2 linked regions of the Homo sapiens genome follow. The protein of the gene in region 1 purifies or fractionates together with the protein of each later gene. This does not show direct contact. Each region holds a gene or a part of one and is shown on either strand. Other genes may lie near its edges.

Region 1 (3,973 bases):
GACCCAGACTACCTTGCCCCCTATTGTTGTTCAAATATGGTGTTGTACTCAGATCCTTGCATTCTAGAAAGCTTATTTCATTCTCCCATGTCATAAGTTTGTCAGCTCTGCACTCAGTTGCCTGGGGGGATATGGCAAGTGCTATAACAGAGGCTGTCTTTCATATTTTATTTTGAACCTTTTCCACTGTTCACCATCTCTCTCTCGTTTTTTAAGGATCAAGCTAGTTTAGTTTACCTAAGAACATAGGCCTATGGGCATGACTACAAACCTCTTTCTGTTCCTCTTATGAAGGCCAGTATGTCATTTTAGAGTGCCCTGTTCAAATTTAAATGGGGTGACAATACCTCAGACTTGACTGCCTAGGTTGAATTTTTTCTCCTGGGTTTTCTATGCAGTGGGTATTTTCAGGTAGAGGCTAGAAAGCTTTAGCCTTTTTCCCAAGGCTTGCTGAATTGTAGGAGTTTTGTCTTAGAATGCTTTTTCTAGACACTTTAAGAACTTTAAGAAGATTCAAACTTATTACCCAAATTTCCTGTAGGCTTTGTTTTGTCAGTTTTTGCTTCTGTCTTGCCTGGAGGCCTGACACCTCCTGTCTTCCAGGTAAATTGACTTCCCTTGTACATCTTACCAGAAAGATATTTACCCTAACTTGTTACACAAACTATTGCCACAGTACCTGTGGATTTTTAAGTTAACTAACATGTGTATTTCTCTTTAAAGGTTTTGTGCACAGACCAAACAAATCACCCTCAGTCTTCCCAGCAGTCAGATGTGGTAACTAAGACTAGGACGGATAATATAGGTTGTGAGGTGGCAAACAACTTAGGGTCCTAAGATTTTGCCAAGACTGTCATCATTACCTGGAGTATAATGGGACTAACTATACCTCCCTTTAAGGACAATGGAAACATTCTATTGAAACCATCCTCACAGGGTTAACAAGAATTAGATGCTGGGTTCTGGACAGAAATATAGTTGTAATTAAGCATTAATCAGGCTGCACTTTGGCCCACTTCTTCGTAACCAAAAGTCCCAGAGCACCAGATGCTAACCATTTGCCTCCTCATTGTTCCTACAGAGAAGATTTCTGATGTTAGAATCATAAGGCCTTTGTTTGTTTAAAAATGGCTTAAGATGTTTTTCAGATCCTGAATTCCAGCAAAAGAGCTATTGCCAACCAGTTTGAAGACCGCCCCCCGCCTCTCCCCAAGAGGAACTGAATCAGCATGAAAATGCAGTTTCTTCATCTCACCATCCTGTATTCTTCAACCAGTGATCCCCCACCTCGGTCACTCCAACTCCCTTAAAATACCTAGACCTAAACGGCTCAGACAGGCAGATTTGAGGTTTCCCCCTGTCTCCTTATTCGGCAGCCTTATGATTAAACTTCCTTCTCTGCTGCAACCCTGTGTCTCGGTGTATTGACTTGCCATGAATTAGGCAACAAACCTATTACAGTTACAGTTACTTTTTTAAAGGAAATTCAATCGTTGGATTGGTCCACCTGCTTATTTCTTCCCTTTTCAAAAAAAATGTCTACATATTGAATTTTTATACATTAAGTGGTTCATGAAACCCCTGAAATGTGTTAGTAAATAGGGCAATTATGAAATATTTGGACATAGCTAGACTTTAAAAATTGTTAATCTGAAGGTCAGATAGACTTGGCCTTCTCCAGCTTTCGTGATTATTCCCTCAGCAGCAAGCTAGTCTTAGGCAGAGCAAGTTTAAAGACATTCATGGTGCTCACTCTGCAAAACTGCACAATTCTCAACATGCACAGAGGCAGACATGATAGGGCTCAGCCCTGGAATTGATAACACTAGCCAACACACTTGCTAAGAATTTATAAGATGTAGACCCTGTTATTATCCTGTCTTGCAAGTGATGAGAAAACTAAGGCTTAAGGATGTTAAGTATTATTAGTTCAAGGCCAACGGTAAGTGGCAAAGCTCAGATTTGAATCCAGGCAGTCCCACCCTAAAGGCCATTCTCTTAGTCTGTGTACTGCCCTCCTTGCTAAAAGAGCTCACCTCTCTAGCCACTTCCTTCTCCCTGTCCCATCTCCCCTTGTACCCTCCAAATAGTCTTCTTAGCCTCTTCACCTTATCTACTGGCCTATTTCTGCCTTGAGGACCTCCCACCTCCTCGCCTGCTGGACTTCTTCCTTACCTGCCTTGTTAATACAACCCTGCCCAGCACCTGCCTCCCTGGTCACACTACAGCCAGGTAGCAGAAACCAAAATGGGCCTGGATTTCCCCAACCAACTTGGTTCTACTTGCAAGATTCTCAGATCATGCTGAATCCTGCCTAGGCTACCCTCCCACTTTCTTTTCTTTACCATCTGACCACATGCCTAAATAAACATCACTTGGGCGAATACAGTGTTCCCCAAATTGCATTCATTCCCATTTTGTCATGATTTTTCTTATCTTTGTGGACCACCTAGAGCATTATTTACTTGATTCACTTTTTGAATTTTAGTATATATATCTTAAACTTTATATTTCAGCCTCAAAGAAAAACAAGTACTACCTGTAATTAGAAGTTAAGCATAAAAATAAACATAAGAGAAAAACAATGCTGATGATTTCCAGCTCTGCATAGTTGCTTGCCTTAGCAACTAGGAGTGAGATTCAGTCTCTGTGTTAAAAAGTGAGGCTAGCCACCATTAGAGGGGCATTTAATTCTAGCACCAAACCGAAACTCTCCATTTGGCATATTCAGAAGGATTAAAGAGAATAACCTACTGAGAGATTCAATGTAGATCACTTAAGATTATCTTAAACAGGAATATGACTGACTCCCAACTTTGGAGAAACAGCAGTGGAGGCCAGATCTTAAACCCAGAGCAAGCTGGCTTTAGACTTGCTTCAACCCTAAACCAGTACTCCTTTCCACCCACCCACCTCCCCCCAACCCCTGCAGGCATATCAAGAAGACAAGGTGCATGGGGGAAAACCAAAGAGTCAGCTTCCCTAGGGCTGATGGGTCAAATCTCAGTGCTTGCCTCTGACATTTTGCTTGCCGACAGTCTGTCTTGAAAACCAACAGGTTGCAAAGAAGAATGTGAACACCTATATCCAGAGATGCCCTATATAAGAATAAAGACTATAAGACCAAAAAGATGTTCTTGACTTAATGTTTGGGGTGGACATACCTAGTTATACGATTTGGCTGTTTCCCCACCCACATCTCATCTTGAATTGTAGCTCCCATAATCCCCACATGTCATGGGAGGGACCCAGTGGGAGGTAACTGAATCAAGGGGGAGGGTCTTTCCCATGCTGTTCTCATGATTGATAGTGATGGTTTTATAAAGGACATTTCCCCTGAATACGCTGTCTTGCCTGCTGCCATGTAAGATGTGGCTTTGCTCCTCTTTTGCCTTCCTCCATGATTGCGAGTCCATTAAACCTCATTCCTTTATAAATTACCCAGTCTTGAGTGTGTGGTTATTAGCAGCATGAGAACAAACTAATACACCTAGCAACTCCTTGGTAAGTATTATTTCTATATCTTCCTTACATATAAAGAATTAATCCTCAGCATAGCAAGAGTACCATTAGGACAACAAAGGTAAACATTCTGAAACTATGTACTGACTCCTCAGCCTCTTGAAGCCATCAAGACACCAACATCAGATTAATTGTGTAAAAGAACTCTCTTTATCTTCCCATATAACCCTCCAGGGTTATATGCACCTGCATTTTGGTGTTTTAGCTTCTCTCTGTATCCTTTGCCTACCAGAAAATGACTTTGAATTGCAGTTTCTTGAGCAGTAGTGAGAAAGGGTTATTGCCTTCACCATGCACAAGGAGCTCAACAGCCCAAGGGTTGCTGAATGAAGCTGCAGTTGTCTCACTCACCATGTGACAGATCCTTGATGAGGCTGGCAATCCTTTCGTTCCAGGAATTCAGCGTCTGCTCTCTGCATAGGTGAATTTATGCATTTGCTCCCTACACACT
Region 2 (8,009 bases), on another chromosome or scaffold:
GTTGCAGTGGACTACTCAATTGAATTGTAACAGTATTAAGTGTGCTCTTGGCATAATTGATGAGATCAGGCAGCAGAAAATGCTTAATCTGATGAATTTTATTGTATGTCAACATTTTTAAAGGGAAGGATAGGAATGTAGGAACACAGGTGCATATTGAATCCTCTGAAACTGGATCGTGTGCTTTATAAATATTACTAACAATAAAACAAATATTAGTGAATGAACCTCTTCTCTTTCCAATGTCTCTTCATTTCCCACCCCTTGTATTGAGGGGAAATGGGTCTCTTTGTTCCTTGCAGTAATCACCAAGGGGAGAGCTGGCAACAGAGAGGCAGATGGCCTGGATCATCTGGATCCTATATATGGTACCTGACTGGGGCTTCTACTCAGCTACTGCTGCTAACAGGACATCTGTTCCCAGAGCTCCCTGTGCCTTTCACATGCACAGGGTCTTCAAATAATGATGTAGGGACCCCCAACAAAAGTACCAAGCCCCTACCCCATCATTCAATAATGAAGCTTAACAATAGGCAAATTCTCCTATAAAGAGTAAGTTTCCAATCAGCATTTTATTGCTGGAAAGGACCATTAAAGATGATTAGATATTGGAGGATCGCTTCTGACATCAAAGTCAGAGACCAAAACAGCAAACGTAGAGAGAACCTAAAAGGAATAGGGTTCAGGAAGCAAAAATTACAAGAAATACATAAATAAATGAAAACTATTATTCACCTAGGAGAGATGAGCTCTTACATGTATCAGAGCAGGAGGCTAGAAAACAAATAAATGAACAAACTGAAAAACAAAGAAAAATAGGAAAATGTATGTAACCAAAAAGATCTCTTCACTTAGAAACAATAACATTCTAGTAGACAAACCTTGTGCTCAGATTTTGGATTCTTTTTTTTTCCAGTTAGGTCATCTTGGGTTCAGAACAGATCTTGGATTCTAATAACATTTTCCAATAAAAGGAACCAGGGCTCCTTGGGGAAATGGATGATTCTAGGGCTGGGGTGGGAAAGATGCAAGATGAGCCTGGAGCATCTTGTGGTATAGCATACCTGTATTCCCAGCTACTCAGAAGGCTGAGACAGGAAGGTTGCTTGAGCCCAGGAGTTTGAGGCTGTAGTGCACTATGATCACACCTATGAACAGCCACTGCACTCCAGCCTGGGCAATATAGCGAGACCTCATCTCTAAAAAATAAATAAATAAATAAAAATAAAGTCTATTTAAAGTGAAAACACTTAGAAATTAAAAATATAAGCCAGGCACAGTGGCTCATGCCTGTAATCCCAGCACTTTGGGAGGCAAACCTTGTGCTCAGTAGACAAAAAAGGAAGAAAAAGAAGAATCCAAGATCTGAGCACAAGGTTTGTCTACAATTATATATGTATGTGCATGTATATGTGTGTATATATATATACATACACATACATACACACATGTACATATATATAATTGCAGCAATTAAAAATATTAGAAATAATGGAGTATTCTAAAAATATTAGAAACAATGAAGTATTAAGAATTTCCTAGAGAGTAGATTAGAAAGGTAAATTCTTAAAAAATAGGAGTGAAAGAATAGTAAAATTAGGAAGTCAGACCAGGAATTTCTACTGAAAAAAGAAAGGGGCTGGGCACAGTGGCTCACATCTGTAATTCCAGCACTTTGGGAGGCTGAGGCAGGCAGATCACTTGAGCCCGAGAGTTTGAGACCAGCATGGGCAACATGGAAAAAACCCGTCTCTACAAAAAATACAAAAATTAGTCAGGCTTGGTGGTGCACGCCTGTAGTCCCAGTTACTCAGGAGGTTGAGGTGGGAAGATTGCTTGAACCTGAGGGGTTGAGGCTGTAGTGAGCTGAGATTGTGCCACTGCACTCCAACCTCAGTGACACAGTGAGACCCTGTCTCAAAAATAAATAAATAAAAATAAAACAAAATAAAAAGAAAGGAGAAAGGACAGGAGGGAAATAGGAAAGAAGAAAGATGAGGGAGAGAAGAGAGGTGAGAAGAATAAAAAAAATTTTTAAAGGGAAAAAAGAAAAAGGAAGAAGGAAAAAGAACGAAACAGTAATTATTACAGAAATAATACAAGAAAATGTCCCAGAATTGAAGGACTTATGTTTTCAGATTACAGAGCTCAAAACACTGGGCAGAAAAATAAACAAGAAAGCTAAGTTTTATTATGTTGAAATTTTAGACCATTGGAGATAAAGAGATCCAAAAAGCATCCTGAGAAAGTAGAAGCGACACCTAAAGGGAAATCGGAATGCCAGCGGATTTCTGAACAACTGCATTGAAAGTCAGGATATGTCTCTGGGAGCTTTCAAAATCCTAATTAAAATTACAGAATTCTAGACCTAGCCAAACTTCCCGTCAAGGATTTATGCTCCATTCACCCTTTCTCAGGAAGTTAATACAGAATATACTACATCAGAATAAAACAATGCAAGTAAGTAAATCAAGAAAGATAAACCACAGGATCTAAAAATTCAGCACAAGTAACCAACACATTTCTCAGGCCCATGGTGAGGAGAGTCCCAGGATAATATCCATTCAGTAGGCTCAGAGAACACAAGTGCAAACTGGAGCAAAAGGAGAAAAGGCTCCTAGAAGCATCTGGAGACCTCTAAAGAGATGTCTCGAGGAAAGATAATGGAACTGAGTGATTGCCAGATTTAACCATAAGGAATATTCTATCTAGTGCAAGAGTATTCAACTCAAGAGTCAAAGAAACGTCATTTAATATTTTATCTGTTATTTTACTTTCTTTCTGTAAAGCTAGGTAATTTTCTAGCCTATCATATTAACATAAATAGAACTTTAATATGGATTTTGAGAAGCAAATCAATGTAAAACAGTTGTTAAGAATACAGACTCTGAAGTCAGCCTGTCTGGCTTTATAACATGGATCTTGGCTTTATCTGCTATGTGATATTGGGCAAGTTACTTCACTTCATTGTGTCTCGCTTGTCTCATCTCTAAAATAAAGAAAGCAATAGCATTTTCCTCAGAATACCCGTAAAGCACTCAGTACATTTGGTCACCTGACATCATTATGATTGCCTCTCTGTGAGAATTGGTAAAGAGAGGACACAGGAAGTGAGGAGATGAGAAGAGGGAGGATAATCTGTAGGGGAATGGGGAAGGAGGAAGTTGTAAATTGGGAGGAAAATGATATAAAAAGTTTTGTTAAGAAAGTCTTGCTGTATGCTATACAATTCACCTCTTTCTGTTTTCTCAAAAAGCAATCCTCAGTAAAGACCTACATTACTTTTCTCTCTCTCTATATATATATATATGTGTATATATATATATATGTATATATATATATATATATATGTGTATATATATATATATATATATTTTTTTTTTTTTCTGAGCAGGATTTGTGGGGTTTTTTTTCGGGGGGAGGGGGTGGATGTGATACTGTACTAAGGTTGGTTTCTAGGTGGTTTAATGTAACTCTTATTACATATTTAGCTTAGAGGAGTCAGCAACTCCACCGCAAAGGCTGTTGTGTTTAATAACCATCTCCATTGCTTTGGCAATCTGTCTGAAACATCGTAGGCACTCAAAACAAAACAAACCAAGACAACTTGAACAAAATGAAACAAATAAGTGAAACAAAATTTTTAATTATAAAAGAAAATTTAGATGTTAGGCTTTTCTAACACCAATCACAGTATGAAAGATGAAGATTACAAACCTTAACCGGCTTAGTACAGAATACTTACAAAACGTAGAGCAGAGTTTCTCGGACTCTAACTCCTGACCTCAAGTGATCCGCCCGCCTCAGCCTCCCAAAGTTCTGGGATTACAGGCGTGAACCACCGCGCCTGGCATAGAGCAGGGTTTCTCAACCTCTGCACTGTTGTCATCTGCCGGATAATTCCCTGTAGTTGGGGGGTTGGTCTGGTGCCTAGTAGGGTGTTCAGCAGCCGACTTGTGACTTGGCCTCCACCCACCAGTTGCCCCCCGCCGCCACCCCCCCACCACCACCATTTGAGACAACCAAAAATATCTCCAGATGTTACCAAATGTCCCCCGGGGAGAAAACTCACTCCAGGCTGAGAAGTACCACATTAGACGTGTTCTAACAAAAATTACCTGTAACCCTCACCTAGAAATGTAAACTTTTTGTTTACATAAATAAAAATTACAGAGCACGGCTACATTGAACTTATTGTTCCATAGTCAGTTTTTTCTTCACTCAGTAATGCAGCATTAACATTTTCGTTATGTGATATCCCTCTACAGGATGAGTTTTAATGGATGCTGGTGCTAACATCGTATGAAATTGAGGTAGGAGGCGGGACTCTGACACCAGACCAGATTGAGGACTAGCTAATCATCATACTTTACATAAGGAATCCGTAGGATTGGAGAGTTGATTGTTTCAAATAAGGCTGGTTTCCTTATTTGGTTATTTCCTTAGAATAATAACTCCAAATCTGATTATTTCCTTAGAATACATTCTTATGAGTAGAACTGCAGCTCAAACTAAATTTGGTGCTGTCCAGTGGTATGGCGATGGACTTCAGAACATCCTCCACTCTTGCCCTCACCCCACAAGAACCCTTTACTCGGGATCCATTCTCACGCAGTCTTCCTCCCCGACCGCCCCGCGCGTCCGCTCGGCGGGATGACAAAGACCGCCTCGGGTGGGGTGGTGAGCAGTACCGGCCTCCTCCAGCAGGGGGCGCTGTGGGATCCGCCGCTGTCCGGGACGAACCAGCAAGCCGCTCTCGGTCCACACACGCTCTGTCTGCCTGCCCCGAGTCCCCCGGGAGGCCGCGGGGTTTGGGGAAGTGTTTCTAGGAGACGGCGCTCACCGGCTGCACCTGCGCCGTTGACGCCACCGGGGCCGGCAGACAGACCCGCGGCGCTGGCTGGTGGAGGGAGTTCCCGCTTGCTCTCTGTCGCTGTCACCGCCCTGTTTCTGTAGCCGTATGGTACGCCTGTGAGACCGGCTGCCGGCTGACGTCTCCTTGCGATGGAGCATATCCGGACGACCAAGGTAGTCGGGCGCGGGATCGCCAGTCTTCAGGGGCCCTGCTCTGACCCGGCTGAGGCAGGAGGAGACGAAGGCTCTGCTGGCCTGACTGGGGCTGGGAGCCGGCCCGGCGGAGACCCGGCCCGGGGCGGGAGGGTCTGGCCAGGCCTGGTCTGGGAGGGCAGGGTTAGCTTGGGCCAAGCGGGGTGCAGAGGCCTCCTGTACCTACAGGAGCAGGGGTCCCACTTTCAGCATCTTGGAGTGCGTAGAGATAAGTCTGGGAAAACTGGTCACCGCCCTCCTAGCTCTACGTTTTCTCGGGCAAAATTGGGGCTCCTTTAACTTTGGAGTCTTTCAGCCTTTCGTTGCCTCATCAACCGGAAAACCGTCTTCAAATTAACATTATGATGCTGTGTAAGCTTGTCCTTGCTCACATTTCATTGTCCCGTGTCACAGATTCACAGTACGAGTTTTGGAGGAACCGAGATCAGCACTCCGCTCCACCTCCCTTTGCTGTCTCGGTCTCCAGTCTTTCGCATCCGGTGTTTCCGTGTCTGTGCTTCATACTTCAGGCATTGTCCTGTGTCAGTAGTCAAGAGTTCTGGAGAAGGGAAAAATGTTATTCCATATTTTAAAAGGTCGGATGCAGCTTTATTCGATTGACCTTATTGCACTCCATGCTTAATTTTTGTGTGTGGAAGACCTTCATTTTGAGAACGAACAAATATTTTTATTTCGTTACAAATTTAAAAACGGAAGGAAATGACATCAGAATGTTACCAAATTACGTTTCCAACGACATTTAAGTTTAACTTTGAGAGGGAGAAAAACATAAATCGAGACGAGAAGAATAACATTTTAAAATCACTGCGAGCCCACTGCAAGGCAGCCTCTTGACGTTTTGGCAAAGCTGAAGCCCTTTAGTTGCTGCCCATCTTAAAATTACGGCTCATTTAGGGAACCACAGATGTTCGTTATCTTCATTGTTCCAAGAAGAATTTGTGTTTTTAAAAATTTTTTAAATGTTTCACAAACCTTTTAAAGGTATACATAAATTTTTATTGGAGCTTGTCTTTAACATTGTGCATACCGTATCTAGTAAAATTGAAGATTCTGAAAACTAACCCCTTAACATTTTTTTTTAAGAGAAGAAAGATAAAATAACTTGAGAATTCAAGTTGTGGGTACTTAAATTTTGAAAATGGAAGGGTGCTTAAGTCTATAACCAAACTCGTAGAAGGTGCACAGAGGAAAAGAGGACTAGAGTGGACATTGGATCAGGTTCTTGTATTGGTTCCAGATATGTATTATGTAGTAGCTAAGTGCACGTGACTTCCTTCTGCATCAGTTCGAAGCTCCTCTATTTTTCATATGCTTTCTACGGTGCATAGCACACAATCGAAAACCGGTAAAAGGCTGGGCACGGTGGCTCACGCCTGTAATCCCAGCACTGTGGGAGGCCGAGGTGGGCGGATCACTTGAGGTAAGGAGTTCGAGACCAGCCTGGACAACCTGGCAAAACCCCATATCTACTAAAAATACAAAAATTAGCCGGGCATGGTGGCAGGCGCCTGTAATCCCAGCTACTCAGAGGCTGAGGCAGGAGAATTGCTTCAACCGGGGAAGTGGAGATTGCAGTGAGCCAAGATGGCACCAGTGCACTCCAGCCTGGGCAATAGAGCGGGACTCAGTCTCAAAAAAAAAAAAGAAAGCCGGGTGGGGTGGTATGTACCTGTAGTCCCAGCTACTCGGGAGGCTGAGATGGGAGGATGGCTTGAGCCCACGAAGTGGAGGTTGCAGTGAGCCAAGATTGCGCCATTGCCCTCCAGCCTGGGTGACATAATTGGGGGGGGGGGGGCGGAAAAGAATAAAAAATCAGTAAAAGTAAACTGAATCTGATCAACTAGAGCAAATCCTATTCTTAGGTGGATGATAAGAGTGAACAGACTTGGAAAATATTTAGGATCCCTTGGTTATTTTAAATCTTTCCTCATTCAATTTATTATGAATATATATCTTTGTTTTTATTTGTAGAGTTGTAGCCCCTCTTATTAGCTCTTTGAAAGTTGTCACTGGTGACTTTCATTTTGTCTGATATTCCTCCTTATCTACCAACTGATGAACTTTTCTTCAAGTAATGCTCTGATTTTGACTTATCTTTACACAGTGGTCTCATGCTAGTGGTTTAATAAGGCCTTTTTAGAGACTAAGAAATTTCTGATGAATTGTCTATTAAAACTACTTTTCAAATATGCTCCTTTATTACTTTGGGTTGTTTTTCTAGTATTGGATCACTACTCTGGAGTAATATTAAGTGAGTGTATGTAGACCGCAAATAAATATTTTCTAGGTACCTAGTATGTGCCAGACACTGTATTGACACTGGGTATATAACAGCAAGATAGAGGTGGACCTCAGGGTACATTCTGTTAATTGTTGTGGGGACTGTAACATGTTCTTAAATTATTAATGTATTGGGAAATAACTTACTTTTAAAAGATTGGTTTGAACATAGCCAAACTTTTGTTTCCATTATGCATAGCCTTCACCTGGATTTAGTTAGTTTGCTGCAAAAATAAGTGTAAGTATTTAAAAAGCAAAAGTGGATTGTTTTAGATTTATTAGCTGTTTTGACCTCTATGTAGTTTAGTCATTAGGATCAAAATTGACCGTAGAGTGTCCTTTATGACTATTTAGTGATTTTTGTTGTTCAGTCAGCTCTATTTGAAAAGTAATAATTACCATTTATTGAGCAACTATATGTCAATATAGCCAATTATACAATATTATTACTTTATAATATGTACAATTGTATAAATCTGTTAATTTATACATTATCATCACTGATCTCTTAAATAACCCTGTCAGTTGGGTAGTATTATCTCCATTTATAGGTGAGGAGGAAATAGGCTTAGAGAATTTAAGTAACCTGCTCAATTAGTTCACAAGAGATAGAATTAGTATTTAAACTAAGGTGTGTTTAACTCCAAAGACTATGTATGCTC

The links.
Region 2: the proteins of FHIT (region 1) and MTMR6 purify together in Homo sapiens (affinity purification with mass spectrometry; 2 studies listed by BioGRID and IntAct, with this or other methods). This does not show direct contact.

The regions. Positions count from the first base shown.
Region 1 is NC_000003.12:59,746,744-59,750,716, reverse strand, and holds the end of FHIT (bis(5'-adenosyl)-triphosphatase), read left to right. Parts: exon of another isoform or gene 1-1,137; 3' UTR 1,138-3,440; downstream 3,441-3,973. UniProt on the Homo sapiens protein: Possesses dinucleoside triphosphate hydrolase activity. Cleaves P(1)-P(3)-bis(5'-adenosyl) triphosphate (Ap3A) to yield AMP and ADP. Can also hydrolyze P(1)-P(4)-bis(5'-adenosyl) tetraphosphate (Ap4A), but has extremely low activity with ATP.
Region 2 is NC_000013.11:25,284,243-25,292,251, reverse strand, and holds the start of MTMR6 (phosphatidylinositol-3,5-bisphosphate 3-phosphatase MTMR6), read left to right. Parts: upstream 1-4,763; 5' UTR 4,764-5,004; coding exon 5,005-5,028; intron 5,029-8,009. UniProt on the Homo sapiens protein: Lipid phosphatase that specifically dephosphorylates the D-3 position of phosphatidylinositol 3-phosphate and phosphatidylinositol 3,5-bisphosphate, generating phosphatidylinositol and phosphatidylinositol 5-phosphate.